Homo sapiens: one gene and its partners. The protein of the gene in region 1 purifies or fractionates together with the protein of each later gene. This does not show direct contact. Each region holds a gene or a part of one and is shown in the gene's direction. Other genes may lie near its edges.

Region 1 (3,500 bases):
GGTGTGTTTTTAGGGGCTCTAACACTTCAGTTGAACCGAACCCCATGTCTGGAGACCTAACTCCAGAAGTCCTGAACTTGGGGTGTTCCACATCCCCGATCTTATCTTACCTGAGGAGAGATTGACCTCATTTCCTAAAACATTTCCAAGGTGGCATTTCCAGTTAGCTTATTGCTGCTTTATTGTATGTGTTTGCCCAGGTGGGGAATTTGTCACCAAGCTGGGTTTGTCACTGGAGGCAGGGTGGTGGAAAGCCGAGGGTTGGGGTGATAGGGTTCCGTAGACCCTGGGAAAGCTGCGTGTGGGTTGGGAGTCTCCGAACCCCTAGGTACTATAGTCAGAGTTTGGCACATGCGTACATTTTTTTCTGGAGAAAAGGTCTATAATTTCATTTTATTCCCAAGAGGTTTTATAACCTAAAGGCCAATACCACAGGAGTCCAGGTGCCTTTGGGTAGACTTCGAACTCCCCCCGGACAGAGAATCATGCTATGCTCATTCCACCCAGCCTCCTACTTTTCATTTTTCTTTTCTTTTTGTTTTTTTTGTTTGTTTGTTTTTGTTTTTGTTTTTTGAGACAGGGTCTCACTCTGTTGCCCAGGCTGGAGTGCAGTGGTGCGATCTCAGCTTACTGCAACTTCCACCTCCCGGGTTCAAGTGATTCTCCTGCCTCACCCTCCTGAGTAGCTGGTATTACAGGCGCCCGCCACCATGCCTGGCTAATTTTTGTATTTTTAGTAGAGATGGGCTTTCGCCATGTTGCCCAAGCAGGTCTTGAACTCCTAATCTCAGGTGATCCACCTGCTTCAGCCCCCCAATGTGCTGGGATTACAGACTTAAGCCACCGTGCCCAGCTGCTTTTTATTTTTAATTTCCACCTCTCCAGGCAGGGTCTACAGTTTCCCTTTTTGGCTGGGCACGGTGGCTCACACTTGTAAATCCTAGTGCTTTGGGAGGCCGAGGCAGGGTAGATCGCTTGAGCCCAGGAGTTGGATACCAGCCAGGTCAATGTAATGGGGACCCTAGAAAAATTAGCTGGGTGTAGTGGTGCATGCCTGTAGTCGCAGCTACTCGGGAGGATGAGGTGGGAGATCACTTGATTCCAGGAGTTTGAGGCTGCAGAGAGCCATGGTCGTGTGACCGCACTCCAGCCTGGGCAACGGAGCGAGACCTTGTCACTAACAAATTAAACTTTTTTAAACAAAAGTTTTCCCTTTTGATTCTCTTTTGCCTACCTCCCCCACTTTTCCCTTCACCTCCTTACTTCCCTTTCATGATATCTGCAGCCACAAAGGGTGTCGCCAGCTGCCTCCAGCCTGCTGGAATAGTTACGTGCTGTGGTACACAGGGTGGACGATATTGTTACTGGCCAAAGAGTGAATATTTCCAGCGTTTTTCTCTGTCTGTTCTTTGATCCTGCTTTCCTTGATTGCCCCACCTTTGTCCTTCCCCAGGATTCACTTTCGTATGAGAAAATGTTTTTCTAGAAAGTAGGTTTGGTTATTTGCACAGACGTACCCAGAGTGAGTGGCAGAGAGCTGTGTGATCTTGGGTCGGGCCCTCGGGGCACACGGCTTGCTCGGGGGTCGGGCGGCGGTCCACAGGGCCATCTGGTGGCCGTCCCCTGACTCTCTGGCCGGGTTGTTTTCCTCTTTTGCAGATCATCCAGTCACTCGATGGGGATTACCAGCGGACCACCTGTTTGTATCACCTTCCCACCTCTCTGTAGCAAGAAAAATCACTTCAGCACCTCTTCAGTAATAATGATGAAACTGGTATTAACTGAATGGCAATTATGGATTTTTAACTCTAATTCACAGTAAACCAGCAAGCCATATGTTTAAAATCCAACCAAAAATCGTTCTGTGTTGCTGCATGTCTCATACCGTTGTGAGAAGTTGTGAGATAGCCACTTGTGCAAAGAGGAATGTAAGTGTTACCTGCCCGAGGAACACAGCAGAAGCAGAAAGAGAAGACGTCTTAATTTATCATTACAGATATATGAAAGCATTATTTATATAGATAGAATATATAGATAAATACATATATTTTTGGTGGTAATGAAAATGGCTCCGCAGAATGCCGACCCGGAATCTATGCAAGTTCAAGAGTTATCCGTGCCCCTGCCGGACCCGCAGAAAGCCGGAGGCGCAGAGGCCGAGAACTGCGAGACCATCAGCGAGGGGTCCATAGACCGAATCCCCATGCGCCTGTGGGTGATGCACGGGGCGGTGATGTTTGGCAGGGAGTTCTGTTACGCCATGGAAACCGCTCTGGTCACACCAATACTGTTGCAGATTGGTAAGTCTCCTCCCCGTCTGTGCGCAGTGAACGCTGAGCGGAGTGCTAGCGGACTGGGCGTGGCTCTGATCCTCTGGAGGCAGAGGATGGTGCGTCCTGGAGAGCCCCGGGCACTGGAGTCTTTGTCTCCTCTCCCTTCAGCCTGCCCTGATGGTGGTTTTCGTCTCCTGTTTTCAGCCAGGTTTGGGGAGGAGTGATCTTCGGATGTTGACGTTGAATTACAGTTTTGGCAAAGTGGTAGCTCAGCATCTGGGGCAGAATTGGCACTGATAAGTACTGGCTCTCGGCCGGGGCTCACCTCTCCCGCTGTCCCTGCCAGGCCACAGTGAACAACGAGGCAAAGGGCAGGGTCGCCAGCACTGACAGTCACTGGCTGTGTCATGCAGGCGAATTCGGGAGCCCTTCTGTGCCACACTCTGATTCTTTGTGTGTAAAGTGATTGCATTCGCAAACCAACCCTAAGAGGGTCCCAGGTGTGCTTAGAACAGTGCCTGGCTGTGGGAGATACTGGAAGATGCTGTCATCTTATCATTGTTGCTGTTGACTTGAATCCAAGGTTATTGTGGACAGTAGATGGCTCAGAGACAGGCATTTCCAAAAGCATGGAAATTCACAGGCACGCACAGGTGGGCATGAAAACACGGAAAATCACAGACGCACAGGTGGGCATGAAAACACAGAAATTCACAGACACACGCAGGTGGGCATGAAAACACGGAAATTCACAGACACACAGGTGGGCATGAAAACACGGAAATTCACAGACACGCAGGTGGGCATGAAAACACGGAAATTCACAGACCCGCAGGTGGGCATGAAAACACGGAAATTCATAGACTTGCAGGTGGGCGTGAAAACACGGAAATTCACAGACACTCGCAGGTGGGCGTGAAAACACGGAAATTCACAGACACTCGCAGGTGGGCGTGAAAACACGGAAATTCACAGACACAGGTGGGTGTGAAAACACGGAAATTCACAGACGCACAGGTGGGTGTGAAAACACGGAAATTCGCGGACACGCACAGGTGGGCGTGAAAACACGGAAATTCACAGACACGCAGGTGGGCATGAAAACACGAAAATTCACAGACACACAGGTGGATATGAAAACAGAAATTCACAGACACGGGCAGGTGGGCATGAAAACACGGAAATTCACAGACACGCAGGTGGGCGTGAAAACACGGAAATTCACAG
Region 2 (2,882 bases), on another chromosome or scaffold:
GGTAGGAGGAGAAGAGAGTGTATTGCTCTGACCCCTCCTCTGTCCGTGTCTCTGTCTCAGATGTCTCCACACTCCCTGACCTGCGTTACATCTTCCCACTGGGACCGGCCTTATTCCAGAGAGGTGGCAGCATTCCCACTCGTAAGTTCTCTGAATCTGAATGTGCCAGCTGGGAAGGCATGGGCCAGCTCCTATCCTGACGGGTGTACGCTCTTAGCCTCATGATTACAGAAACCATATGTGGGGCACCTTGTGAAATAAGGGTCTTGAAGAGGAATGAGGAGCAAAGAAATTGGCTTTCAGAGGCGAGGTCACACAGTATCAACCACAGATCTGGGAACCCATAGGGAACAGAGTGGGGGAAAACTGAATACGAGTCCTGCCCAGTGGACCAATGTGTTTCCCTCCACTGTGGGACAGGGAGATGGCGCCCAGTGCAACCTTCCTTTCCTTTCTGATTCTTATATGGAGGAGAAGGTTCTGTGTAGTCTGTTTGAGTGAGGTAGGGAGAAGGCTAAAAATGTGCCAAATTATGCTATGTGCTGTTTATGGATCTATGCAGTAATAGTATAAAAACATAATGAGAATGGTAAATCCTGTATTCATTGGAGAGGAGAGGAAACAAAATGATGCTTTTTTTTTCTTTCTTTTTTTTTTTTTTTTTTTGAGACGGAGTCTCGCTCTGTTGCCCAGGCTGGAGTGCAGTGGCATGATCCTGGGTTCACGCCATTCTCCTACCTCAGCCTCCCGCTGGGACTACAGGCGCCTGCCACCATGCCCGGGTAATTTTTTGTATTTTTAGTAGAGACGGGGTTTCACTGTGTTAGCCAGGAAGGTCTTGATCTCCTGAACTCGTGATCCGCCCACCCCGGCCTCCCAAAGTGCTGGGATTACAGGCGTGAGCCATCACGCCCAGCTGATGCTTTTTTTTTAATCGTTCAAATTTTTATTTTAATACACAGTATGAGAAATTAACTTTTTTTTTTTTTTGAGATAGAGTTTTACTCTTGTTGTCCAGGCTGGAGTGCAATGGCACCATCTCGGCTCACCACAACCTCTGCCTCCCAGGTTAAAGCGATTCTCCTACCTTAGCCTCCCAAGTAACTGGGATTACAGGCATGTGCCACCATGCCTGGCTAATTTTGCATTTTTAGTAGAGATGGGGTTTCTCCATGTCGATCAGGCTGGTCTCGAACCTCTGACCTCAGCTGATCTGCCTGCCTTGGCCTCCCAAAGTTCTGGGATTAAAGGCACGAGCCACTGCGCCCAGCCGAGAAATTAACTTTTAAATCAACTGAATTGTATGGAAAATGACATAGCAAATAAATTAGACCTATGTTAAAAGAGAAGGTCAGCTAAATATCCAAACTTAAGGATATAATGGGCAGATAAACATAGATTCCAAAGTCTTCTTTAAGCAGTTGAAGTCTTTCAAACACAACTTTGCTATAAACTGGTCCAGATATCAACAGCACATAGGGATGCTTAACAGGGGTGGTGATCAGGGACACGCCTCCTGGGAAATGCCTCTTTTTTTTAAATGGTAATGTAGGGTTGGATTTTAGGTTCTCAGAATATTTGCTGGGCTGATGGTGTCTTAGGTTGTGGGACTAGCATTGCCACCTCCTTTGCCCTAAGAGAAACCTCCCAGAACATCTCACAGCATTTCCATCTTTTGTCCTTTGCAGCCCTTCGTGAAACCAGAGAACAAATTCTGGCCAACGATTGCCCGGATTGATGACATATATGGAGATCAGCACCTGGTTTGTACCTGCCCACCCATGGAAGTTTATGAGTCTCCATTTTCTGAACAAAAGAGGGCGTCTTCTTAGTCCTCTGTCCCTAAGTTTAAAGGACTGATTTGATGCCTCTCCCCAGAGCATTTGATAAGCAAGAAAGATTTCATCTCCCACCCCAGCCTCAAGTAGGAGTTTTATATACTGTGTATATCTCTGTAATCTCTGTCAAGGTAAATGTAAATACAGTAGCTGGAGGGAGTCGAAGCTGATGGTTGGAAGACGGATTTGCTTTGGTATTCTGCTTCCACATGTGCCAGTTGCCTGGATTGGGAGCCATTTTGTGTTTTGCGTAGAAAGTTTTAGGAACTTTAACTTTTAATGTGGCAAGTTTGCAGATGTCATAGAGGCTATCCTGGAGACTTAATAGACATTTTTTTGTTCCAAAAGAGTCCATGTGGACTGTGCCATCTGTGGGAAATCCCAGGGCAAATGTTTACATTTTGTATACCCTGAAGAACTCTTTTTCCTCTAATATGCCTAATCTGTAATCACATTTCTGAGTGTTCTCCTCTTTTTCTGTGTGAGGTTTTTTTTTTTTTAATCTGCATTTATTAGTATTCTAATAAAAGCATCTTGATCGGAAGAATGCCTTTCTCTTGGTGTACTTTATAGTTTTACCACCGTTACAACCTAGATTCAGTGGGAGCTGAAGGGCAATGAGAACACCCAACCCAATAGCCATTGTTACATCATCAGTTTTGCCTTCGACTGGCTGAAGAAACAGTTGTCTTGGTCAACAGTGAAAACCACTTTGACCCTTTTTGTTGGAACTGAGTTAGAGTGCATGTAACTGTACTCCAGCTATGGAAGGTCAATCAAATAGCAATTTATCTTTTCTCATTTAAGTCCAGAGGTAATAAGCCAAGCACTGGTGCTCCTTCAGTTTTCCCGCTCTGCCCTCCTTTGCATAAAATTTTCATCCGCATGGTCTCAAGAAGGCTGTTGCATTTCCAGGCGTCTGACATACCCATTCTAGTTAGGATTAAAAGGGAAGAGCAAAGGCCAGGCGCGGTGGCTCATGCCTGTAATCCCAGCACTTTGGGAGGCTGAGGCGGGAGGATCACCTGAGGTCAGGAGTTGGAG
Region 3 (3,500 bases), on another chromosome or scaffold:
CGGTAGTTCAAAATCAGCCTGACCAATATGGTGAAACCCCGTATCTATTAAAAATACAAAAAAATAAGCTGGGCGTCGTGGTGTGCACCTATAGTCCCATCTACTCAGGAGCCTGAAACGAGAATTGCTTGAATCTGGGAGGCAAAGGTTGCACCACTGCACTCCAGCCTGGGCAAGACAGAGCGAGACTCCATCTCAAAAAAAAAAAAAAATTAAAAAAAGAGTGGTACAACTCACTGAAGATAAAATCTGGGCAGAACTTTTCCAAAAATAAATTAGTTAAATAATATAGAGCATTTTGCAACAGTAGTCATTCCCAAGAGACTTCCAGCCTGGGGGACGCAGCCAGTCTACCAACTTATAGGGGCCCTGAGCCAGGAAATCCATTTCAAAGCCTACTGAAACAGCCCCTTCCTTCTCTCTTCCTCCTCTCCTTTCTTCACTCACTGTCCCTTTCCTTCTGTCCCGCTTCTCCACTGTCCATAGTCGGAATTGCCTTCCTTCCCCTACTTTCCCTTTTGCTTTATTTTCTTGATTAAGGATTTATTTTTCCAAGACCTAGTCTTGCTTTCACAGAATCTCCAGTCACACTGACTTTGGGGGCAGAGAGGACACTGCTCCTTCCCCCACCTCCACCCTGTGTGTGGCATCAGCAATTTAGACATAATGAGATGGTAAGCTTGACAGCTGTCTTTGAAATGTATGCCCATTATAAAGTCAAATGGTGAGACATGCATGTGGGCATGTTTTAAACAACCATTCCTAACAGTTTCATATAATGGATTCACTCATGTTATCTCATTATCTCTGGGCCTCTTTTATAAGATCAGAGAGGTTAACAATGTGGCCAGTGTATTCATTTGCCCATTGGCTGATTAAAAATGTATATGTATTTGGCCAAGGTCTCCCAGCTTGAAAGTGGCAAAATTGGGACTTGAACTTCAGTTCTTGGCACTGTGTTTCCTGCCATATTTCTTAGGTGAAGGGACATTTGGCCTTTGACTAAACTAGAAGCCAAATCTAAATAACTAAAGAACCCAAACAGAGTAAGATCAACTGCTTTACTGGGCTTACCAAGTGTCATTTAGGGAATTTTCCCATCCTTTGGTGTTAGAGCCAAATTTCCTCATCTTTGGGGGAAATTTTGGAACGTGACTTCTCACTTCCCAACAGAGGGAATTGCAAAAGTCAGGTGTTTTCAACAAGAACATTGAATCGATTGAAGACTTTGGATAAATGCTAAGTGGAGACCTGTGGTTCCATGCCATAAAGCATGGAATATACCATTTTGACCTGAAAAATATCGAAGCCAGTTGTTAACACTTTGCTGCTTTGTCCTGTAAAATCCTTTAGAAGAAAAAAACCAAAACCTGAGTAGTACCTGTAACTAATTTTAACTAGGTCTTAAGTCAGCAGTTCTCAAAGTGTGATCTCCAGACTAGCAGCACCAGGAACACAGGAACTTGCTAAAAATGCAAATTCTCAGTCTCCACCCCAGACCTAGTAAATTAGAAACTCTGAGAGTTAAACCCAAAAATCTTGTTTTAACAAGTCCTTCAGATAATTCTGATGCTGAGGTTTGAGAATCACTGATTTAAACCATCAAGAGAAAACTCTATTTGCCCACTCAAATGGGCAGTAGTATAACTAGAAGCCTGGAATCTCTGCATGTATGTGTCCCATATGCTCTGCAAAAAGGCACGTATTCTTAACTGGTGTTTTGTGATTCGATTGGTTGTGCTTAGAATTTGCTTGGTTCTCTTGCAAAATATCCTGAAGTTGGTTAAAGAAAGGATTGATCGTGTCCAGTAAAATAATGCGTCTTGTCAGTAGTTGACAAGGAGCCACTGTTGAGACCTTGCCGGATACAAAGCCAACTTCAAGCCTACTCTCTTTCCCAACATGTCAGCCTTAACCATCCCCTCTCCTATTTCCAGCAGAAATCTTTTCTCTTTCAACGTGTAATACCAATTCTGCCCCAAAGGAAAGAGAAGGCAAAATGAGCAGAATTTGTGGTTTTGTCCGTTCACTAGCGCTAATGCAGTGAAGGAGGGATGAAAACGCTTTAGGAGATGGTATGATTGGGAAGGATATTATGCCATGTACCATTTCCCTTCTTCCCCCAGTGCCAGCCGCTGATGAGTGGTTTCACATTCCTGTACTGGGTGGCACACAACCTAGTCTGTTTTCACTGCTAGCAAGGATTCACAGTGCCAGTCTGTTATGTACACCCAGAGAACAGGGGTGACAGAGACACCCTCCTGCCTTTTAGAAGAGATATTTGATCCATATTTTTCCTGCCTGGAATCGTGGAGACTCCTGTCTGGTCTGGCTGCAGCCTGACCCTCCGGATGCCTTCAGTTGTGGGTGTTTGACACATCAGGAAAGTCACAAGTCTGACTCCTGTGATTTGAGGAGACAGCTGGGAAACCTCCCTGCTGTGGTCCCAGCCAGCATAGGAGCATGACCCTACATCCAGGGATGGGCTTAGTCCAAATCAGAAATGCCTGTGTTCTCTCAGGCCTTAGCCTCCAGCTTCCCGACACTGAGACCTAGGGCATGAGAGCTTCCCTGCTGGAGTCCTACCTTATTCTCACCAAGTCACCCCCGACTGACCCTTTGGGCCTTTGGCAATAGTATAAATGGGTGTTTTAAACTTCTCCATGGGCAACCACCCTGCTCTCAGAAGATGCCCTCCATCCTCTCCAGGGTCTCAGAAGGCTTGGCTCTTCCAGGTGCCAATAAAAATGAACAGTGGGAGCTGGTGGCAGACCAGCAAAGGGCCGCCTCACTGTCCCTGCTGGACTGCTACAGCGTGGGTAAGGCCCCCATTCGTGGATCTCAGGCCTCAGAGGCCGAGGGTTCCAAGCACCCCAGCGAGGCTGCCCCCGAGCCTGGGAAGGCTGGCTGCATCCGGGTGGTCTCTGCCTAGCTGCTCCTAAGCTCCTGCCCTCTTCCTTCCAGATCACACGGCAGCAATATCAGAACGCACTCACTGCCTGCCACATGGACAGCTCACCTCAGTCCCCTGACATGGAGGCCTTCACAGACGGGGACTCCACTAAGGCCCCCACAACCCGGGGCACACCCCAGACCCCTAAGGATGACCCCGCCATCACGCTCCTCAACAACAGGAACAGCCTGCCGTGTAAGTCAGCTGGGCAGACGGGCAGGCTGGGCTGGTGTGGGGTGAGGATGACCCTGCCTTCCTCTTCTAGCCCTTCCCAGGGCTCACACCACCTGAGCCCTGGGTCTTCTCCAAAGCAGAGAGGTGATGCACTCACTGTCCTCCCCAGGCAGCCGCTCAGACGGGCTGAGAAGCCCCAGCGAGGTAGTGTACCTGAGGATGGAGGAGCTGGCCTTCACCCAGGAAGAAATGACTGACTTCGAGGAGCACAGCACACAGCAGCTCACGCTGTCTCCTGCAGCCGTTCCCACGAGAGCAGGTCAGGGAGGCCAGCTGGGCCCAGTGCAGCAAGGGAGATCATTGCCTTTGGGCA
Region 4 (3,500 bases), on another chromosome or scaffold:
AGTATACACTAGGTTAGACTTGGGGTAGTTACAAAGTAGGTCTAATGATAAAGTACTGAGTATGCATTGTTTGGTGATCTTCACTCAAATACGAAGCTGTGTAGGACTGTTTCAAAAACTAGCCCATGCAGATGGATTGTTTTTAATGTGCTACCAAATACGCTTGTATATGATGAGATACTCAAAAATTGCACCTGAACCTTCTTATTCTATAAAAATGGAGTAAATGATTCTGAAAGAATATATGATTTGGATCATTCTTGATACCCAGAGTTATGTTCACTGCCTCCCACCCAGAGTTCCTATCAGAAGCGTAGGCTGGATATTTTAAGAGGTTCTGAAAGTTGTTTCAGTTTACGTATAAGCTGCCTTTAAACAGTTAACTTCTTCAGTTCCCAGATTGTGGTCTCCAAATACATCATCTCCTCTAAAAGGAGCTTAAGAGTTTCTGGAGAAAAGGCTGATTGTAGGGCGGGATGCAGGACTGCCAGTGACCCTGGGGCTCAGGAGCCTCCTAAAGCCCACCCCGGGGCCCCAGGTGGAGCAGCATGAGGTCAGGACTACAGTGGAATGAAACCTACCAATATGTTCAACTCTATGAATTCAACACGGTGTTTAAAAAATGCACAAATCAGAGACAAATTATAAGATCACAATATGTGGTCCTTATTGAGCTCCTTCCTGATGCAAGCAAACTAGTTAAATAGAATTTCTAACATGAGACAGTTGGAGACTTGAATACTGACTAGATATTTGTGATGTTAAGGAACTACTCTTCATTTATTTTAGCTGTGATAATGTTTTTAAAAATAGTCTCTTAATGATACACTAAAATAATTATATCTTAGACTTCCTTCCAAATGAGTGGTATACAGGTGAAATGAGATTGGCTGTAGTTGACAGTTGTTGGTACATGAGGTTTGTATACCGTTCGGCTGCCTATATATTTGTTTAGTTTTCCTTGCTAGCATGTTAAAGAACTAACTTAAGTTTGGACCTGTAGAGATGGTTAAAAGCATTTAAAAATTGGCAAGTTTTTTCCCTTATTACAGGAAAAGGCACTAAATTTTAAATATGTGTTTTTCCTTTTAGGGTATTATAGGTCTCTATATTTGTTGATTAACAGCAAGCTTCCATCAAGTATTGAATATTCTGATTTATCTCGAGTTCCTATAGCAAAAATTTTGCTAGAGAATGTTCTAAAACCATTGCACTTTACTTACAACTCCTGTCCGGAAGGTGCGAGGTGAGACTGGAATGGATTTATTGATTTTGTCCTTTCACAAGATCTATATCTGATGGTAACTTTTACATAGGATGTGATTTTAAATATAGACTTGAAATTCAGGTTTTTACTTTATTAGTGTTGATTTAGTTTATAGGAAAGTGTACTTTTTCTTTCTGGCCTGTAGCCTAATACAAATTTGTGATTCTGATAACATGGTTATTTTCCTGCTTTTCTAAGTAACTGTCAAAAATTAACGAAAACATGGTAGTTATCTTAATAGAGAAGACATTAAGTTTACTTTAGGTTGATCTAGTTGATATTAAAATGGTTAACTTGGCTAATTTAGAAGAGTAGATTATCCTTTTAGAAGGATATTTTGAAAGGTGATTTTAATCAGTGATTGGATGGACAGTATAATTTGATTTTATAAAAAGCTTCTGTTTTTCTTTTTCAGGCAACAAGTTTTTACAGCCTTCACAGAGGAGTTTCTGGCAGCACCTTTTACAGATCAGATTTTTCATTTCATCATTCCGGCGCTTGCAGATGCGCAGACCGTTTTCCCTTACGAGCCCTTTCTGAATGCACTGTTGTTAATAGAGAGTAGATGTTCAAGAAAGAGTGGTGGAGCACCCTGGCTTTTCTATTTCGTTTTAACTGTTGGCGAAAATTATTTGGGTATGAAATACAAGATCTTTTTTACCTGAACACACATATGGGTAGCATTGGCAGATGAGTCAAGAGAAGGCCATGCAGTGGCAGGTGTTATGGAAAGGTGGGCCTCTCCTGGAGGAGTGTATTTGCTGGAGGGATGTGGTCTGGGCAGTGTGTTCCTGGGGACAGTTTCCAGATACAGTGGAAAAGACTGACATATATATGTGTCTTATGAGGCCACACAGATTATTTTAATAGAGTTAACAGAGTTAAATGGGAAAGCTCTTCTGTGAGTCAGGCCTGTTTCCCTCCCTCTGCTAAATTTCCAGTGTGCCTCTTCTAGAATAACATCTTCCTGTAGTATGTTTGAAAACATACATACATACATACATGCATGAATTATTCATGAAAGAAATATAGGAAAATGTGAAAACCAAACTTTTGGGGGTTGGGTGCGGGGGGGTATATAGAGTCTCGCTCTGTCACTAGGCTGGAGTGCAGTGGCTCCATCTCAGCTCACTGCAACCTCCGCCTCCCGGGTTCAAGTGATTCTCCTGCCTCAGCCTCCTGAGTAGCTGGGACTACAGGTGCACGCCACCACACCCAGCTAATTTTTGTATTTTTAGTAGAGACGGGGTTTCACTATGTTGGCCAGGATGGTCTCAATCTCTTGACCTCGTGATCCACCCGCCTCGGCTTCCCACAGTGCTGGGATTACAGGCTTGAGCCCCTGTGCCCAGCCCAAACTGTTTTTCTTACTCTCTCACTCAACACTGAAAAATTCTGTGAGCAGAAATGTGGGGTTTTTTTTCCCACACACCAAGCAATTCTTCAGTGGACACCAACTAGGTATTCTACAATTCAGTTCAATTCTGATGCCGTCCACCCGGAGATAATGTCAGATCCCATCATCTGAGGGCTTAGTCCTGCAAGACTACACCCACTTCAGAGGCCGATTACAAGTAGTAGGTTGTCACCTATACTTCTGACCAACCTGCAAAAATGGGGGTTCCTCAGCCCCTCCTTGGGATTGGTAATTGACTAAGACAGTTCACAGAACTCGGGAAGTCGAGGTGTGCGGGAATGGGGAGCTTCCATGCCTTCTCCAGGCACTCCACACTCTCGGCACCTCCCTGTGTTGAGCTCATTGTGTCTTCCTGTTGAGTTTTATGGTGCTTCTTCTCCAGTGTCCCTCCCACAGACAGCCCCTTGGAAGTTGGTGCGTGGGGCTGAAAGTTCCAACCCTCTGATCACTTGGTTTTTCTGGTGAAAAGCCCCATTCTGAGTCCCCTAGATGGCCTCACCATAAGTCACCTCAAGTATGATCACAAAGGGCTGGCTATGAATAACAAGAGACTCTTTATCTTTCAAGAAATTACAAGAGTTGTAGGTGCTTTCTGACATGAACGGGGACAAAATCTAAATATGTTTCCTATTATAACACAGTTAGAATTTTAAAAATAAGATCTGGTCAGAAATGCCTCTCTGCGTGTGAGGAAAAATGGCGTCTTCGTTTTCCATTTTAAAAAATAATGTTTAACTAAAATACGTTTTAACTGATTGTTTTGCAAAGGGGCCCTCTCTGAGGAAGGGCTGCTGGTGTATTTGCGGGTGCTGCAGA
Region 5 (3,500 bases), on another chromosome or scaffold:
AGTGGCTCATGCCTGTAATCCCAGCACTTTGGGAGGCTGAGGTGGGCAGGTCACCTAAGGTCAGGAGTTCAAGACTAGCCTGGCCAACATGGTGAAACCCCGTCTCTACTAAAAATACAACAATTAGCCAGGCATGGTGGCCGGTGCCTATAATCCCAGCTACACGGGAGGCTGAGACGGGAGAATCGCTTGGACCTGGGAGATGATGGTCGCAGTGAGCCAAGATCACACCACTGCACTCCAGCCTCGGCAGCTGAGTGAGACTCCATGTCAAAAAAAAACAGCCATTCCCGGCTGGGCGCCGTGGCTGACACCTGTAATCCCAGCACTCTGGGAGGCCGAGGCGGACAGATCACCTGAGGTCAGGAGTTTGAGACCAGCCTGGCCAACATGATGAAACCCCGTCTCTACTAAAAATACAAAAAATTAGGCATGGTGGCGGATGCCCATAATCCCAGCTACTCGGGAGGCTGAGGCGGGAGAATCGCTTGAACCTGGGAGGCAGAGGTTGCAAGAGCCAAGATCGTGCCACTGCACTTGAGCTTGAGCGACAGAGCGAGACTCCGTCTCCAAAAAAAAAAATAAAGTAAAAAATAAAAAGGCGTTCCCTGTTCAAAATTGTGTTTAAAATTCTCTTATGTTCTTGGCTGACATAATTATAGTTTTTTTTTTTAATTTGCCTTTTAATAATTTTTATTTAGATCTTTATATGAAATTTAGTTTTTAGGATAGAATCTTGGCATATAGAATTACATATATGAACATAATATATATCATGTTACATGCATATATGCACACTGTCGAGCTTGTTAATTGTTCTATTTTGGCTAGCTTAGGCCCTTTTTCTTCAGGATTAAAGATCTGAACTAAGCCAGGCGACTGGGTAGCAGATGTGGAAGCTGATGGTTAGGCCCAGGGCATGGCCAGGTGACAGCTCTCCAGTCACTCTTCTCTGATTTTCATTTGTTACTTTTCTTACCCAGAAAGGATCTATGTTTATGAAAATAAAAAGGAAGCATTGCAAGCTGTCAAGATGATCAAAGGGTCCCGATTTAAAGCTTTTTCTACCAGAGAAGACGCTGAGAAATTTGCTAGAGGAATTTGTGATTATTTCCCTTCTCCAAGCAAAACGTCCTTACCACTGTCTCCTGTGAAAACAGCTCCACTCTTTAGCAATGACAGGTTGAAAGGTAAATCATGCAGCCGTTCACATCTTGATGTTCCTGTCACATTGATCCCACCCTGTTTTGTGCCTTCTTTCCTCTGATGTGGTAACTTGTTTTCTCCATGAGGGTAGAGTCGATGGGGTCTCAGTGGACCAGGAGGCCATGCTGGCTCTGATGCTCGTGTAATTAGCATCTTGACTCTGGAGAAGCTGAAAAGAACGCTGTGGCCGCTTCCATCTGTCCCCGTGTCTGTTGGATTTTTTTCTTTTTTTTTTGTAAAGAGACAGGGTCTTGTTCTTTTGCCAGCCTGGAGTGCAGTCTGGTGCTATCATGGCCCACTGCAGCCTCAAACTCCTGGGCTTAAGCAATCCACCTGCTTTAGCCTCCCAAGTAGCTGAGAAATAGGCGTGCACCACCACACCCAGCTAATTTAAACTTTTTCTTTTTTTTTTTTTTTTTTTTGAGATGGAGTCTTGCTCTGTCGCCCAGGCTGGAGTGCAGTGGTGCGATCTTGGCTCACTGCAAGCTCCACCTCCCGGGTTCAAGCGATTCTCCTGCCTCAGCCTCCCGAGTAGCTGGGATTACAGGTGCACACTGCCACACCCGGCTAATGTTTGTATTTTTAGCCACCATGTTGGCCAGGCTAGAATTTAAACTTTTTTTATGGAGACAGGGTCTTGCCATGTTGCCAAGGCTGGTTGAATTGCTGGCATCAAGTGATCCTCCCATCTCAGCCTCCCAAAGTGCTGGGATGACAGGCGTGAGCCCCTGCGCCTTTTTGGATCCTGAAACCAGTCTACTTCCCCACCTGAAGCTATACCTACTTCAAGGACTAGGGCATCTGGAGAAGGCGGGCTTATCTGTAGGAGCGGTCCAGCCCGAAGTCTGACCCATGCCCACCTCCCAGCTCAGAACTAGGGTTTTGTGTGAAGAGGCTCTTCACGGTCAGTGTGGGGTAGAACCTCCGCCTTTACCTTTCATCTGGCCTCAGTTCCTGCTCCCTCTCGCAGCTCACAGTTGTCTGGGCTTCCCTGGCGGGCTGGTACTCCAGAGGAATGTTGCCCTCTCCTTCCAGTCATCCGCCTGCCCTCAGTCAGCCTTATACAGGTGCTTCCTGGATGGAAACCAGAGTGGCTTCTAACAGGTACGGATTTCCTTCTTTGCAATTTGTGAGGATTCCTCAGAAGGAAATCACCTTAAGACAGAAATCAGGCCGGGCGAGGTGGCTCACGCCTGTGATCCCAGCACTTTGGGAGGCTGAGGCGGGTGGATCATCTCAGGTCAGGAGTTTGAGACCAGCCTGGCCTACATGGTGAAACCCCGTCTCTATTAAAAATACGAAAATTAGCTGGCCGTGGTGGCAGGTGCCTGTAATCCCAGCTACTTGGGAGGCTGAGGCAGGAGAATTGCTTGAAACTGGAAGGCGGAGGTTGCAGTGAGCTGAGATCGCGCCACTGCACTCCAGCCTGGGCGAAAGAGCAAAACTGCGTCCCCCCCAAAAAAATCAGCTGGGCGTGGTGGCAGGCTCCTTAATCCTGTAATCCTTTGCAGCCACACTGTGCACATCGAAGGTCTTGCGTGATTTCTGGGAGTGTTCCCTTGCCCGCTGCTGCCGTTATTCCTCCTCCACCTACTGACCGAGCTTTCAGAGTTCACTGGCCGGGTGTGGTGACTCGTCCCTGTAATTACAACACTTTTGGGGGCTGAGGCAGAAGGATCCCTTGAAGCCAGGAGTTTGAGACCAGCCTGGGCAACATAGACCTCATCTCTAAAAATACGTGTGTATATATATATATATATATATATGTATATAAGCCAGGCGTGTTGGCATACAACTGTAGTCCCAGCTACTTGAGGGCCTGAGATCACTTGAGCCCAGGAGGTCGAGGCTGCAGTGAGCTATATTCGTGCCACCACACTCCAGCCTGGGTAACAGAGCCAGACCCTGTCTCTGAAAAAACACAAAGTTCACCAAACTTGGCCTCATTCACAGAGCCTTTCCCAGCAAGATTGTGGCAGGGTCTGGCTGCTCTTCCACTTGCTGTGCTCATGGGGGCGCGCTGGCTGCCGTTGTAGGCTGGGGCCCCCAGTGAGATTGTGGCCGGGTCTGGCTGCTCTCCCTCACTTGCTCTGCTGACGGGCACGCTGGCTGCCATTGATTGCGTTGCATGCTGGGGCCGGTGGCCGTGGGCCCTTCTCGTCTTTTCTCACCTGTGCCTCCCAGTTGGCCCAGAAGCCTCTGTGGAAAGCTGCTTATCCCTCATCAGAGGGTGCATGGGTGATGAGTGACTTTTGGTGAAACTGATTGTTCTTAAATTCTGTCTCTTACTGACA
Region 6 (3,500 bases), on another chromosome or scaffold:
TTGCAGTGAGTTGAGATCACGCCACTGAACTCCAGCCTGGGTGACGGAGCGAGACTGCATCTCAAAAACAAAACAAAACAAAACAAAAACGAGTCCTGGCCTGGTGCAGTGGCTCATGCCTGTAATCCCAGAACTTTGGGAGGCTGAGGTGGGAGGATCACTTGAATCCAGGAGTTTGAGACCAGCCTAGGCCAGATGGCAAGACCTTATTTATCTCCACAAATATTTAAAAATTAGCTAAGTGTGCTGGTGCACACCTGTAGTCCTAGCTACTCAGGAGGCTGAGGTGAGAGGATGCCTTGAGCCCAGAAATTTGAGGCAGCGGTGAGCTATGATCATGCCACTGCACTTGAGCCTGGGCAGCAAAGCGAGACCCCATCTCTGGGAAAAAAAAAAAAAGGGGGTTGTACCTGAGTGGCTGGATGAACGGTGGTACCTTTTTTTGACCTGTTGTGTTAATTATAGTAATGTTGGTACTGTAACAGATAAACTCCAGCATTCTCAGTGGCTTAACACCGTAGAAGTTTCTCACTCTTGTAAAGCTGCATTGGGTGTTCCTGATTGGCAGGGCAGCTGTTCTCCAAGCAATGTTCAGGGACCCAGTCTCCTGCCGTCTTTTTTTTTTTTTTTTTTTTTTTTGGAGATAGAGTCTTGCTCTGTTACCCAGGCTGGAGTGCAATGGCGTGATCTCGGCTCACTGCAACCTCTGCCTCCCAGGTTCAAGCAATTCTCCTGCCTCAGCCTCCCCAGTAGCTGGGATTACAGGGGCACACCACCACGCCCATCTAATTTTTTGGATTTTAGTAGCTACTGGGTTTTACCGTGTTGCCCAGGCTGGTCTCAAACTCCTGAGCTCAGGCAATTCCTCCACCTTGGCCTCCCAAAGTATTAGGATTACAGGTGTGAGCCACCACGCCTGGCCTTCCTGCCATCTTTAATACTTCCCACAGTCGGCATGTTTGTCTGCATCAAGCTGGCTGGTGGGGGTAAGCTTGGAGGTGAATGCCTGGGAAGCCCGAATGATCCTCAGATTTCATTGGTTCACACTTAGTCTCATGGCCACACCTTGCTGCACAGGAGGCTGGGAAATTTAGTCTAACAGGTGTCCAGAAGAGGAAGTGCATTTGGTAAACATCTGGCTAGTCTCTCCTATGGATAGAGAACTCGGGCAGGAGCAGATTGAAGGTGAGTTAGAGAGGGTCGGGAATCCTGTCTTCTACAGACTCAGTTTGAGAGGACTCAAAATGGGGCCATTGGGTAGCTGGCCCCTGGAGGAGCAATGAAGGAGTCATCAGTGGATGGTTCTTTAAAGCCATGGGACTGGATAAGCATCTCTGGGGAGAGTTTATAGGTAGAGAAGAGATCTGAACCCTGGGCATGGCAAGAATCCACAGTTAGGAAGCAAAGGAGAATTCACAAATAGAGACTGAGAAGAAACCAGAGAAATAGGAAAAAAATCACGGTCCCAAAAGCCCAGTGAAGAGTGTTTCAAGGAGAGAAGGATCAACTGTGTCATGCTGCTGAGACGTCAAGTAAGATGAGACCTCAGATATGTGTGTGCATTGGTGTTGGCAACATGCAGGTTGTTGGTGACCTTGATGAGGTGGTGTGATAGGAACAAAACCTTACTGAGTGGGACTAAGAGAGGCTGAGAGGTGAGGAAGTGGTAACAGTGAGTGGAGAGCTCTTTTTAGGCTTGGAATGAAGGAGAGCAGAAAAGTAGGGAGGACCAAAGAATGATAGCATGGTAGACAGTGTTTGTGTAAGACTGAAGAAATGACAGCATTCATATGAAAATCGGGACGATCCCGTAATAAGATTCTCCTGCCTCAGCCTCCTGAGTAGCTGGTACTACAGCGTGTGTGCCACCACACCTGGCTAATTTTTGTATTTTTAGTGGAAATGGGGTTTCACCATGTTGGCCAGGCTGGTCTCGAACTCCTGACCTCAAGTGATCCACCCGCCTTGGCCTCCCAAAGTGCTGGAATTACAGTCATGAGCCACCATGCTCAGCTAGGTGTTTATAAGTCAAGGAAGTTTTATGTGAAAAAAGGGAAGTACCTAAATCTGATGTACCAAACTGATATAATGAAGCATTTCCCAGTATTTGTTCCAGCAGCTGGGACTACAGCGGTGGACAAAAAGCTGAGCTGTTTGTTCTTGGGCAGGGTTCCTGAGGGGGAAGATGGATATGCAAAACAAACCACCTGAGTGCCCTGTGTCCAGTTACGGTGGATACATAAATGATCATCTCCCATTCCTATTTCCTCCTGTCAGACAAAGCCTTGTTAATCATTGTGCAAACATTCTTTCAGTTAGGGGTTTTTCAGTATTCTGGAAAACACAATGCGGCAATGTACAGAACACAACAATTTATCCTTCAGTCCGTTTTTGCACTTCTCGTTAAAATTCTGTTTAGAAAGCAGGGTTTTAGGCTTTTTGCTGTGGCAGTGGGAGTATCCAGTCTAAGAAATGAACATTGTTCAGAACTGAAAGAACTTTCATATACTGAAATATACCCTTCATTGTGTTAATAGCTGTCTGGCCTTGGGGGTGGTGCTCGTCATGGTAAGATGCTTTTTCTCCTTGTTTGCCTATAGGAGAATCAGATTCATCATGTTAGCTACAATAGTGCTATGCTGCAAGGTGGGTGTGGTTTTTTTTTTTTTTTTTTTTTAAGGTAGGGTCCTACTCTGTCACCCAGCCTGGAGTACAGTAGCGTGTTTTCGGCTCACTGTAACCTCTGCCTCCTGGGTTCAGGCGATCCTCCCACTTCAACTTTTTGGTTAGGTAGGACTACAGGCACATGCCACCATGCCCGGCTAATTTTTGTATTTTTTGTACAGATGGGGTTTCACCATGTTGCCCAGGCTGGTCTTGAACTCCTGGGCTCAAGCAATCCTCCCACCTCAGCCTCCCACAGTGCCAGGATTATAGTTGTGAACCACAATGCCCAGCCTGGCAAGGGGGGTGTTTGTTTTGTTTTGTTTTGTGATTCTCCTGCCTCAGCCTCCCGAGTAGCTGGTACTACAGCATGTGTGCCACCGCGCCCGGCTAATTTTTGTATTTTTAGTAGAGACGGGGTTGCACCATGTTGGCCAGGCTGGTCTCGAACTCCTGACCTCAAGTGATCCACCCACCTCGGCCTCCCAAAGTGCTGGGATTCCAGGCGTGAGCCATCATGTGCTCAGCCAGGTGTTTGTAAGGCAAGGAAATTTTATGTGAAAAAAGGAAAGTACCTAAATCTGATAACATTTGTAGGATATCTATACAAGACATAACTTGGGCCAAGTGCTGTGGCTCACATCTGTAATCCCAGCACTTTGGCGGGCCGAGGCAGGTGGATCACTTGAGGTCAGGAGTTTGAGGCCAGCCTGGCCAACGTGGTGAAACTCTGTCTCTACTAAAAATACGAAATTAGTCAGGTGCAGTGGCATGCGCCTGTAATTCCAGGTACTCAGGAGGCTGAGGCATGACAATCGCTTGAACCCGGGAGGTGG
Region 7 (3,500 bases), on another chromosome or scaffold:
GGGGAAGCCCAATTCATGTGCTTTTCCATTGCCAGCCTTTCTTCCCGTATGGCCTTACTTCTACAGCCCACAGACTTGCCATATGCAGAGATCTTAGCCAGGGTACTCACCTTGAGGGATAAGGAAGAGGCCAATTTATAGGATTTACTGCTCCAGAGAGGAAAGCTCCTGGGTGAGGCACTGTACCTGGAACAAGATCTCTACCCCAAGCATTGAATTTGGTTGGGTCTCAGAGGAAGCAGACCTGTTATCTTGCATTCTGCATGCATTTCTGGTGGACTTTATCACAAAGGTCTGGGACTCTGGGAAAAGGAAAGGACAGCCAGAAGGAATGAAGAAAAAAAGAAGCTTTCTCTCCCTCAAATCAGATTCCAGCTTTTGGTTGCCACTGCCTTCAACTAACAAAGAAATCACCTGTCATTTTATTGTTATAACTATTTTTATGATTGTCAGCATAATTGCCATTATCGTTAACACCTAAATGTATAGTGAATGCTTAGAATGGACTAAGTTGTTTACAGTGGACTAAGTTCATTGACTTCTTTCAACAATCTCAACAATCCTGTGAGGAAGATTTTTTTTTCTTTTTTTGTTTTGAGATAGGGTCTTGCTTTCACTCTGTCATCCAGGCTGGAGCCTGTCACTATGCAGTGACAGGATAACAGTTCACTGCAGCCTCACCTTCCAGGCCTCAAGTGATCCTCCTGCGTCAGCCTCCTTAGTCAGCCTCCTGAGTAACTGGGATCACAGGCTTGCCACAGCACCTGGCTAATTTTTTAATTTTTTGTAGAGACTGGGTCTTACTATGTTGTTCAGGCTGGTCTTGAACTCCTGGGCTCAAGCACTCCTCCTGCCTCCGCCTCCCAAAATGCTGAGATTACAGGTTTGAGCCACTGCAGAAGCCACTGACCTCCGGAAGATTCTATCATTATCCTTATTTAGAAATTTAGAAATTAATAAAGTGAGAATCAATCAGAGAGGATAAAATACTTGCCAAAGTAGCAAGTGGTATTGCTGAGACTCAAACTTGGAACTGTCTAGCTCTGAGCTCCTATTTCCAATTACTATGCTACTCTCCAATTAATTACTGACAACTAGAGTCCGAACTCAACAAAGCACTTGAGTTTAAAATGATGCATTACATTTGCTTATACACACACAGCACCCAAGCCAGTGAAAATCAGGAAACAGACAATTAGCAAATGCCACTTGAATATTTGTCAGCTCTCACCGAGATCTAGGAGAAATCTCTTTTCAAGATGATGAGAAAGATGCTATCCAAATTAATCCTTAGTTTAGTCATCCTAATTCTAATGACTTAGCAAACTAAGATTTTTAAACAATAGAAACATCTTTATACCCATGTTTTTAGGGAAAGCCATTGTCATTTGCACTTTATTTTAGAGCCGTTGGTTTCTCTGCTGCTCTAAAACTTAGATGGCCTCGGAGCTCCTCCGCCCTCATGCCCTCAAGACCTCAGAGGAGTGAGGATGGAGAAAAGGTTTAGGTTGGGTGCAGGGAGAACCTGTGTTAGTCAGGCAGCCTCACCTCTGTCCTGTTCCTCCCACCCCCAGGAAAGCTGCCCTCTCCTTCCCCCACCTCTAGACTGCCTTCCTTGAAGCAAGATAGCAGTACTTGGGCAGTTTACTCAGCACTTCCAGGGTCTTTCCAACAAAAATGAGTTTCTGCTCAACTTGTCCTATCTCTTTTGAAAACCAAAAAATAATGATTTGGGGGTGAAAGTCAATGTGCTGAAACACAAAAAAATCTCATGTTGTCAAACAGAAAGTAAACTTTAACCTTCAGAAAATTTTTTGGTTTTCCTGTATGATATGTCTTATTGTTTTAAGATGTATTCTACCATGGTTTTTTCATATTACAAAGGAGGGTTTTCTTAAGCTTATTGTAATTGATTGTAATTAGTTCCCTTAAATTAATGGATGAAGTTGAGTGTAGAATTGTAGCTAGAGTCTTCAAAACATTTATCAGCAAAGACTATAGGATTTACTATATAAACAAGCTCATTTAAATGTTTCACATTAATTACATAGCTATTATAAATGCAGATGGGAAGAAAAGCCTTGATGGGATTTGTTCTATTCTATTCTGCTGATGTAGCCTTAATTGCACATGATAAGAAAATACTTTTAGTCTGAAAGTGTGCCAGACTGCCACAACCACGCTAACAACCTGCTTTAGTGAAATATCAAACAAATGTCATGTCAGTGTGTGCCTCATGGGTGGAAAAAAAAAAAAAGCACTGAACAGTTTCCCCTGTTAACTATTCAGTGAAAATATGAGAGAGATATCTTTTGTACAGTGCCTTCAAAAAAGAAACAACCACTCATACATTTTTTTTTAAACCCATGTGAATTGTAATTGTATTGTAATGAATTGTAAATCTCAGGGTAACAGCAGTGAGCTCTTCAGCCAGACTGGATTCTAGCAGTCAGGACATTTCAGCCTTGGGTAATCAATCAGGGGACTGGAAAGGAGTAATTTCAAGGTGGTAACCAAGTACTCCCAACACCATTTATGTAGAATTTATCACAGCAGTGATACGCACACTGATTGCATATCTGCTTGAGGACGTGTACAATCAACAGCTATTTATTTATGGCCAATTTATAACATAGTGCCAGGTTCAACCATTGAGGCAATTGAATCAAAACTGTAACATTAGCTTTAGAAAAACATAATTAGAAAGGTAAATACACTAGATTCAGGAGCCAAATATAAATTCCTTTTGGATAATGTATAGTTATGGATTACCAAATATCTATATGGTTAATCTCCTTCATTAGTGTGAATAATCCAGAATTGGATGTAATTACTTACATGTTGAAAGTGATGATAGTTATTATACAACATCAGTTTCACTAATCCTATCAAAATCGTTTGTTCTTTGCCAACAATCTTTTCTATAAAGCCTGTTTTTATGCATGCAATTTTGTTTGCTTCTTGGGTTTGCTGATTTTAAAAAACACAGTTCTAGGCATGATTATTCATATCTGGGGGAAAAAAGTCCCTAATAATTCTGGCTTGAAGGGAAGTTAATACGGTAATTTACTGTATTCCACAGTCCCAAAGATGATCATTCTGGCCTTGCTTCTCTCTTCTGCAGCAACCATCCACTGTGGGTTATGCAAGACAAATCATTAAGAAGGAAGGCTGGGGACTCCAGGGCCTCAACAAAGGATTAACTGCAACTTTGGGACGACATGGAGTTTTCAACATGGTTTATTTTGGCTTCTACTACAATGTCAAAAACATGATTCCTGTCAATAAGGTAACTATTTAATAAATTAAAATCCTGGAGGAAAAATCCTATCAGTGATGATAGCTCCGTTTGTAGAATGTTTATCCTGTCCTGGTCACTGTGCTGGACACCTACATCTATTATCTAATTTGATCCTTACATCTGCATTGAGTGCTGTTATCCCTGCTTCAAATCCAGAAGTGGAGTCTTAGAAAGATCAAGGAAATTGCCCAGCTCACAT

What was found.
Region 2: the proteins of SLC45A4 (region 1) and GLDC purify together in Homo sapiens (affinity purification with mass spectrometry; one large-scale study listed by BioGRID and IntAct). This does not show direct contact.
Region 3: the proteins of SLC45A4 (region 1) and CNNM1 purify together in Homo sapiens (affinity purification with mass spectrometry; one large-scale study listed by BioGRID and IntAct). This does not show direct contact.
Region 4: the proteins of SLC45A4 (region 1) and UBE3C purify together in Homo sapiens (affinity purification with mass spectrometry; one large-scale study listed by BioGRID and IntAct). This does not show direct contact.
Region 5: the proteins of SLC45A4 (region 1) and ANKLE2 purify together in Homo sapiens (affinity purification with mass spectrometry; one large-scale study listed by BioGRID and IntAct). This does not show direct contact.
Region 6: the proteins of SLC45A4 (region 1) and PISD purify together in Homo sapiens (affinity purification with mass spectrometry; one large-scale study listed by BioGRID and IntAct). This does not show direct contact.
Region 7: the proteins of SLC45A4 (region 1) and SLC25A21 purify together in Homo sapiens (affinity purification with mass spectrometry; one large-scale study listed by BioGRID and IntAct). This does not show direct contact.

Annotation. Positions count from the first base shown.
Region 1 is NC_000008.11:141,252,789-141,256,288, reverse strand, and holds part of SLC45A4 (solute carrier family 45 member 4), read left to right. Parts: intron 1-1,517; exon of another isoform or gene 1,518-1,659; 5' UTR 1,660-2,059; coding exon 2,060-2,300; intron 2,301-3,500. UniProt on the Homo sapiens protein: Proton-associated sucrose transporter. May be able to transport also glucose and fructose.
Region 2 is NC_000009.12:6,531,967-6,534,848, reverse strand, and holds the end of GLDC (glycine dehydrogenase (decarboxylating), mitochondrial precursor), read left to right. Parts: intron 1-60; coding exon 61-141; intron 142-1,688; coding exon 1,689-1,832; 3' UTR 1,833-2,382; downstream 2,383-2,882. UniProt on the Homo sapiens protein: The glycine cleavage system catalyzes the degradation of glycine.
Region 3 is NC_000010.11:99,384,856-99,388,355, forward strand, and holds part of CNNM1 (metal transporter CNNM1), read left to right. Parts: intron 1-2,964; coding exon 2,965-3,148; intron 3,149-3,296; coding exon 3,297-3,446; intron 3,447-3,500. UniProt on the Homo sapiens protein: Probable metal transporter.
Region 4 is NC_000007.14:157,180,426-157,183,925, forward strand, and holds part of UBE3C (ubiquitin-protein ligase E3C), read left to right. Parts: intron 1-1,092; coding exon 1,093-1,246; intron 1,247-1,682; coding exon 1,683-1,903; intron 1,904-3,452; coding exon 3,453-3,500. UniProt on the Homo sapiens protein: E3 ubiquitin-protein ligase that specifically catalyzes 'Lys-29'- and 'Lys-48'-linked polyubiquitin chains.
Region 5 is NC_000012.12:132,748,333-132,751,832, reverse strand, and holds part of ANKLE2 (ankyrin repeat and LEM domain-containing protein 2), read left to right. Parts: intron 1-983; coding exon 984-1,190; intron 1,191-3,500. UniProt on the Homo sapiens protein: Involved in mitotic nuclear envelope reassembly by promoting dephosphorylation of BAF/BANF1 during mitotic exit.
Region 6 is NC_000022.11:31,652,216-31,655,715, reverse strand, and holds part of PISD (phosphatidylserine decarboxylase proenzyme, mitochondrial), read left to right. Parts: intron 1-3,500. UniProt on the Homo sapiens protein: Catalyzes the formation of phosphatidylethanolamine (PtdEtn) from phosphatidylserine (PtdSer). Plays a central role in phospholipid metabolism and in the interorganelle trafficking of phosphatidylserine.
Region 7 is NC_000014.9:36,711,107-36,714,606, reverse strand, and holds part of SLC25A21 (mitochondrial 2-oxodicarboxylate carrier), read left to right. Parts: intron 1-3,124; coding exon 3,125-3,289; intron 3,290-3,500. UniProt on the Homo sapiens protein: Transports dicarboxylates across the inner membranes of mitochondria by a counter-exchange mechanism.